Homo sapiens: one gene and its partner. The protein of the gene in region 1 interacts with the protein of each later gene in a pairwise test. Each region holds a gene or a part of one and is shown on either strand. Other genes may lie near its edges.

Region 1 (4,085 bases):
GCAGGGCTGTGGCCCGCATCTTCCACGGCATCGGTGAGGCCTGGGAGGCCCCACCCGCTGCAGGCTGGGGCTGGGGGCTGGGGCAGGTGAGGCCTGGGAGGCTCCACCCGCTGCAGGCTGGGGCTGGGGCTCACGGCTGTGTCTTGGCTCCACCGTAGGAAGCCCCTGCTACCCGGCCCAGGTGTACGGGCAGGACCGACGCTTCTGGAGAAAATACCTGCACCTGAGCTTCCATGCCCTGGTGGGCCTGGCCACGGAAGAGCTCCTGCAGGTGGCCCGCTGACTGCACTGCATTGGGGGATGTCGGGTAGAGCTGGGGTTGTCAGAGGCTAGGGCAGTGACTGAGGACCTGGGCAAAACCTGCCACAGGGTGTGGGAACGAGGAGGCTCCAAAATGCAGAATAAAAAATGCTCACTTTGTTTTTATGGGCCCTCTTGGCCAATGAGGCAACCCCCACAAGCTGGGGACAAGCACATCACATATTCCAGGCACAGAGACATCTGGGCCACAGGCACATGTGGCTTTATTGACCACTCCAGCCACTCAGCTCAGAGAAAGGTGCTGGGTGCTAGGTCCAGGTACAGAACGGGAAAGGCAGAGAGGATGAGCAGGAGCAAGAAGCAGGGATGTGGCCCCAACCCATCAGCCAGGCCTCCGGCCAGAGTGCCCAGCAGCAGCTTCCCCAGCAGCTCCAGCGTGGCCAGAAGGCTGTAGTGTGTGGCCTGAGGGGGGTGGGGGTCACGGTCAAGGTCAGGCCCACACAGCCCCAGCCCCGTGGTCTCTCTTGTGTCCCTGCTACATCTACTCACCTGCAGGGCCCTGGGGGCCAGCTGGCTGCAGCGCATCATCCCAGTGAAGGTGACTGTGGTGACCAGGCCTCCCAAGAAGTGCTGCAGACATAGGCTCAGCAAGGCTGACCCTGGGAGGGCAGAAGTCAGCAGTGCCCCAGGCTCCTGGCCCCTCTCTTCCTCCTCAAGGCCAGCCCCTCACCTCTCAAGATTGTGCCAGCGTCCATGCTGGCCCCCAGGGTGTCCAGGTGGAAGACCAAGGCAGTCTGACAGGCTAGGCCCCCGAGGCGGAAGCGCAGCACCGACCTCAACAGAGGCAGCAGTTTCCTGGGATGGGGGTGGGAAATGGGTCAGTATAGTGGATTGGGGGCAGCTCAGGTACAAGTGGGTGGGCAGGGTACACTGGGGAGGGCTCACCAGTGCTTGGCCAGCAAGGTCCCACCCAGGGAGGAGCCAGCGATGGAGCAGACCACAGCACCCACACCATTCCACAGTCCCAACTCGGGAGCAGAAACGCCGTGGTCCAGCAGGAGAAGAGGAAACAGGCTGCTGGCACCCTGCTCACCTTGGGTGGTGGGGGGGGCATGAGCACGGGAGGTTCCATATCTGCCCCCACCTCCCTTCTCCCCACCTGGGCCCTCAGTCCTGCCCTGCTCTCCTCAGTGTTCCAGAGCTGCAGATACTGGGGGAGAAGTGGGGCAGCCCGAGAGAGCGCTCAGGGATGGGGCTAGAGCTGGGGGCGGACAAGACACAAGGCCCAGCTGCAGAGCCCCGGATGTCAGGGCCAAGTCTTGCAGGTCATACCCCAGAAAGAGCGTGGCCCTGTAATGGGTTGCAAGCCCCTGGGGACACACCTGGAGCTGTCCCGGAAGCCCCAACTGCTGTTGCCTGGCTCGAGGCCTCACTCACCCAGCTTGTAGGTGAGCACAAAGCCTGCCGTCCACACGGTCCCCGGCACGGCTAGCACGTCCCGCAGAAGGTGCGCGGTGTGGGGACGCTGCTCGGAAGGGGGCTGCTGTGGGAGCCGCCGCAGGGCTGGTGCAGCCCAGGCCAGGGCCGCGGCCAGCCAGTAGGTGGCAGCCAGGAGCAGAAAGAGTTGCGGCCACGAGAAGGTGGGCAGCAGCGCCAGCAGCGCGCCCCCAGCTAGCGCGGCCCCCAGCTTGTACGCGACCACCTGCACGGTATTGCCCGGCCCCAGTTCGGCCGGCTCCAGCAGCTGCACAGCCAGCGCGTCCAGGGCCACATCCTGCATGGCGGCACCCAGGTTCAACAACAGCAGCAACCCCGCCACAGCGGCGGGCAGCCCGGCCTGGCCAGCTCCAGGAGGGGGCAGCCCGGCAAGCAGCCCACACACCAGGCCCAGGCCCGCCGTGCTGCGCGTCACCCAGGCCCTCGCCGAGCCCTGCGCGTCCACCAGCGGGGCCCAAGCCAGCTTGAGCAGCCACGGAGCGTACAGAACCTTGGCCAGCCCCACGCGCGTCAGCGAGAGGCCGCCGGCACGCAGCAGCACTGGCAGGAGGCCGGACTGGAGCCCGTAGGGCAGGCCCTGCACCAGGTAGAGGCCGGCCAGCGGCAGCAACTTCCCGCGCATGGCGGCTCAGGCCGGCTGCGAGGCTGGGAGGTCGGGTTCCAGGTGGGGTCCCGCAAGGCGAGGTCCCCTCCGCGTGGGGTCAGAGGCCACACCCCGGCATGGCTTTGGTTCTGGGACCGGGCAGAGTCAGCGTCGTACAGGCTAGGGTCTGGACACGTGCTCTCGGGCTTTAGGAGCATCAACACCCCAGAAGAACCGAAGTCGGGTCCAAACGGGGGCGAGCGGTCCGGACACCGGCGGCCGGCGGCTCCCGGCATGCTCTGCGCGGCCGCAGGGAAGGGGGCGGGGCCACTGCCTCCCGGGGCTCCCACCATGCTCTGCGATACCGCAGGTGAGGGGAGCGGGGCCACTGCCTCCCGCGGCTCCCAGCATGCTCTGCGAGGCCGCAGGTAAAGAGGGCGGGGCCGCTGCCTCCCGGGGCCCTCGGCCCGCGCCCAGCACTGCCGGCCGGGCCGGACTCTCAGCAGTTTCTCGGCCCCCTGGAGCCACAGAGCGGAGCACGGACCACACGGCGTCGCTGGAGCCCCGCGGCCACCGGCTCCAGGGCCGGAAGGTCGCGCGGGCCACAGAGACCGCAACGGGCCAGAGCGTCAGCTCGCGGGCGCCCCCGGTGGCCAGTCCGGGCTCGGGCCCGCGGCCCCCCGCCCCGCCACGTGCGCGCTCCCACCGAGGTCCTGCGCGGGTGAGAGGCCCAGAGGGGGAAGCTACAGAGCTGGGCCGGCCTCGAATGTAAGGATCGGCCTGCGCCCACGGCCAGCCCTGGCCCCTCTCAGTAGTTTCGGATCCGCTCCAGGCGTGCTTCCTTCCTGGTGTCAGCCGAAGCGTGGTTGCTGCAGTGCCCAGCCCCCGCTTCTCCAGCCGCCCGCATGAAGGCGTCCGTTTCTTAAGGGTTCCGCCGTCTACCACTGGATACTTCCGGTGCGGACCCCAACCTTGCTGTGTCTGTGGCTTCAGCTCCTCCGTAAGGCGGTGACAGAGCCATGGAAGTTAGGAGGGAAGTGTGAAAGGTCAGGACCCAGCTTAGCTCAGAAGGACACCGCCAGCCACTGCCCGTGACGCCCTTCGGTGTCCGGTGACAAGGCTAGGAGCACCCTGCCTGATTCGAGCCCGCCCTGCCAAGGGAGGGGCCCACCTGCTGTGTCTCCTGCCCAGAGCTGTGCCCTCTGGGGCTCCCGAGGGCCAGATGAGGCTGTGAAGTGTGTGTGGCCTGTGGTTAAGAACCATCTCCAGAGCGAAAAAAACCAGGTGCCCTTGGCCAGTCCTATCTCCCAAGTTTGTGAGTCTCTAAAGCCAGCCCTGTCCTTGGCGGACTTGAGGGCACTGGACCCAACGCATTTTTCTGGCTGCCGAGGCCTCTGAGGGGGTTTCTTGTCAGCTCAGCAGGTTTTTGGGTTGCAGGTTTCCACGTCTATCAAATGGGGACTATCATGCCTACTTCAGAAGAGCATCTGTGCAGATTGAGTGACCCCCCAGCAGTGTCTGCATGTAGTAGGTGCTCAGCCATGCTCCCCAGGCCAGGACACAGCGCTGCCCACTCCCGCTCAGCCCAGCCCCTGCCTCCTCCAGCCCCAGCCCTCCCCTGGGACGCTCCCTTATCCTCTCCCTCTGCCTCCCACTCCACCCAGCCGAAGGACTGCACCACACAATGACACCAAAGGTGGTCTCTGGCCCCCCAGACAGTGGCCCCACCCCTGCTTCCTTGGGT
Region 2 (3,122 bases), on another chromosome or scaffold:
CCCAGAGTGCTGCCAGGGTCCACTTTGTCCCGAAACTCCTGGCCTTGGTTCCAGAGGCAGCTTTCCTAAGATGGGCCGGGGGGCCATGTGCTGGGGTTGGGGGCCCACGGGGCTAAGAGGGAGACTGGCCTTCAGGGTTCACAGAGGCCAGCACCAGAAGGCATTGCTTCCTGCCTCATCCCATGCCCCTCGGGGGTCCACAGACAGGATGAAAAGTCGACAGAGACAGAGGGGTGGAGCCAGGCCTGCTGGGGGTCAGGACTCTCCCTGCAGTCAGGGGTGGCATCACTTCCCACCTCACCCTGTGCCCCCCGGGGGTCCACAGACAGGACAGAGGTTGGTGTGAGACAGAGGCGGCTTTATTAGAACTAGAGGGGGTGCTGCCCAGGGTGGAACCAGGCCTGCTGGGGGTTAGTTCTGCAGAACTTGGGTCTGGGGGAGTAGCTGGGGTCTCTCATGCAGCCAGCATCTGGGAAGGACAGGGGGAGCATCCTGGTCCCTAAGACAAAGAGCCTGCCCCATCTTCTGAGGGTGTCAAAGCCAGAGAGGGCAGAGCTTGCTGGGGCAGCTGGGAGGTCAGCCCCTGGTGGGAAGGGACTCCGGATCACATCCAGGGCTGTCAGCAGCTGGACTTCTGGCCAGAGCAGAGGCTGTAGCAGGCAGGGCGGGAGCACATGGGGCGGCAGAGGAGGGAAACACAGGAGGCCGTGCGGCAGCAGCTGGGCTGGCAGGAGGAGGCAGAGGCACCACAGGAGGGGACGGGCACGCAGCAGGTGGACTTGCACACAGGGTGGCAGAGGAGGGACACGGAGGAGGAGGATCTGCAGCAGGAGGCGGTGCAGCAAGCCGGCTGGCAGCTAGACTGCTGGCAGCATGATGTGGAAGCCCCAGAGCAGACGGGCACACAGCAGGCGTGCTGGCAGGGGGAGGAGGTGCAGCAAGCTGGCTGGCAGCTAGACTGCTGGCAGCATGAAGAGGAATCCTCAGAGCAGGTGGGCACACAGCACACAGGCACGCAGCAGACGGGCACGCAGCAGGCCTGCTGGCAGGGGGAGGAGGTGCAGCAAGTTGGCTGGCAGCTAGACTGCTGGCAGCATGAGGGTGTGCAGGAGCTGGTGCAGCCTGATTGGCAGGGGCTGGGCTCACAGACCGCCTGGCAGCAGGGGCTGGACACACAGCTCACACAGCTAGACTGCTGGCAGCACGAAGAGGAAATCCCAGAGCAGACAGGCTTGCAGCAGACGGGCACACAGCAGGCCTGCTGGCAGGGGGAGGAGGTGCAGCAAGCTGACTGGCAGCTAGACTGCTGGCAGCATGAAGAATCCCCACAGCAGACGGACACACAGCACACAGGCTTGCAGCAGACAGTCTTGCAGCAGACGGGCACGCAGCAGGCCTGCTGGCAGGGGGAGGAGGCACAGCAAGCCAGCTGGCAGCTAGACTGCTGGCAGCACGAGGGCGTGCAGGAGCTGGTGCAGCCTGATTGGCAGGGGCTGGGCTCACAGGTCACTGGGCAGCAGGGGCTGGACACACGGCTCACTGGGGTGCAGACCAGGCTCAGGCAGGGGGCCGGGGCGCAGCAGGGGGGCTCACAGCAGCTCTCTGGGCAGTCGTCCACCTGCCAGGAGTCGGAGCAAGAGTCACAGGAACCAGGAAGGCAGACGCGGCTGCCGTAGCTCAGGTCGCTGGAGCAGACGGACATGGTGGACGCGGCCATGCTGGGGTTGAACTGGTGGAGGGTGAGGGAGTGAGCCTGTGAGGTGCTGAGGCTCTCGGGCTTTTATTCCACCTGGCCTTGTTGTCCCCGGGCCCACAGCTTCCCCTTCCGTGTTGCCGAGAGCTGGAGTCTGCCGGGATTAGGGGTGTTTGTTCGCCCGTGATGTGGGCCAGCTCATAAATCTCCCATCACATCTGGGCTGTGTCCCATCCCATGTGGATCCCTGGCGGCAGGAATTGGGCGGGGCCTGGTCCCAGCTGGGTTCGGGGAGCTGGGAGAGCCACAGGTCGCGGCATCGTCCACCCCTGGCCCCAGCAGCCCCGGGACACAGAGTCCCTCTGCAGGAAGCCGGCCTCAGGAAGTGTCCTTGTGGTGAAAACCCCTCATCCAGCGTGGTCCTTCCCCCATCACCGGACACAGGACTGTGGCCATCTTCTGAGGGACAACCTGGGGCCCATGAGCCTTCATTGACCTGCCCTGGGCCATGGCATGGTGGGGGTGGGGGGCAGCTGTAACTGTGCCCAGACCTCTTGGCTTTGAGCTCTGGACGACTTCTCATCCCCACAGCCTCTTCACCTCCGGCCCTGTTTCGTGTCCACCTCGTCTTTGTGTTTTGGAGGCAGCAGGACCTGTGTGTTCCAGGGCAAGGACGGTGGGCTTGGCCCCTCCCTGCTTGGACAGCATGACAGCCTTCTGGGCTGTGGTTTTGGGTTCTGAACCTGCAGAGTAACCGTGCTGAGCAGCGGGCGGTCAGCAGCCCTCGTCCCCGCCTGGGGTGGCTCCTCTGTGTGCTCTGCTTCTCCGAGGCTGCCCGTCAGCCCCCACCCAGCCTCCTGCTGGGCCCATTTCCCAGCCCTGTCTTCCAAGCCCTGTGCCAGGCCTCTTAGTGTCACCACCTTAAAATTAAGGGACATCTGTCCAAAGAACCCGCACAGAAGACACAAAATGGGTCCATGAGAAGTTGATCTCACTGCAAACCCATTGCCAGTGTAAACGAAACATAAAATCCTAAGCCCCTCAACTGACTAAATGGATCCCATCTTGCCCACGGGGACCCCCGAAAAACTGCGTTCCTGGCCATGACAGGAAGGGAGGTCAGACACGCCTCGTTACACCCCCTCCCTTTAGGGTTTCGACACAACCACTACCCAGCACTAAAGTTAAAATAGAGACCGTAAGACCCACAGAGCAGACTCTGGCAATAAGATATCAAATTACAAACAGGACCTCAGGCCGCGCCAGGCAAGGGACAAGCCGCGTGCCCTACACTGAGAGGACGGACTCTGCTCTCACGCCACAGCTGCTGTTTTTCTACAGTGGCTAAACACGCACTGGCCCCGCGATGAGGATGAGCAAGGTTCAAACGACTGCAGCTCATCCACCAGCAGATGCCAACTGACCACGT

Evidence for each region.
Region 2: the proteins of SLC33A2 (region 1) and KRTAP10-6 interact in binary tests that used the Homo sapiens proteins (3 or more experiments, as listed by UniProt).

The regions. Positions count from the first base shown.
Region 1 is NC_000008.11:144,507,629-144,511,713, reverse strand, and holds SLC33A2 (major facilitator superfamily domain-containing protein 3), read right to left. Parts: upstream 2,645-4,085; 5' UTR 2,381-2,644; coding exon 1,699-2,380; intron 1,355-1,698; coding exon 1,207-1,354; intron 1,117-1,206; coding exon 992-1,116; intron 921-991; coding exon 811-920; coding exon of another isoform or gene 724-810; coding exon 550-723; 3' UTR 501-549; downstream 1-500. Other genes in the region: RECQL4 (ATP-dependent DNA helicase Q4), read left to right, coding at 1-33, 159-283.
Region 2 is NC_000021.9:44,590,768-44,593,889, forward strand, and holds KRTAP10-6 (keratin-associated protein 10-6), read right to left. Parts: upstream 1,739-3,122; 5' UTR 1,718-1,738; coding exon 620-1,717; 3' UTR 501-619; downstream 1-500. UniProt on the Homo sapiens protein: In the hair cortex, hair keratin intermediate filaments are embedded in an interfilamentous matrix, consisting of hair keratin-associated proteins (KRTAP), which are essential for the formation of a rigid and resistant hair shaft through their extensive disulfide bond cross-linking with abundant cysteine residues of hair keratins.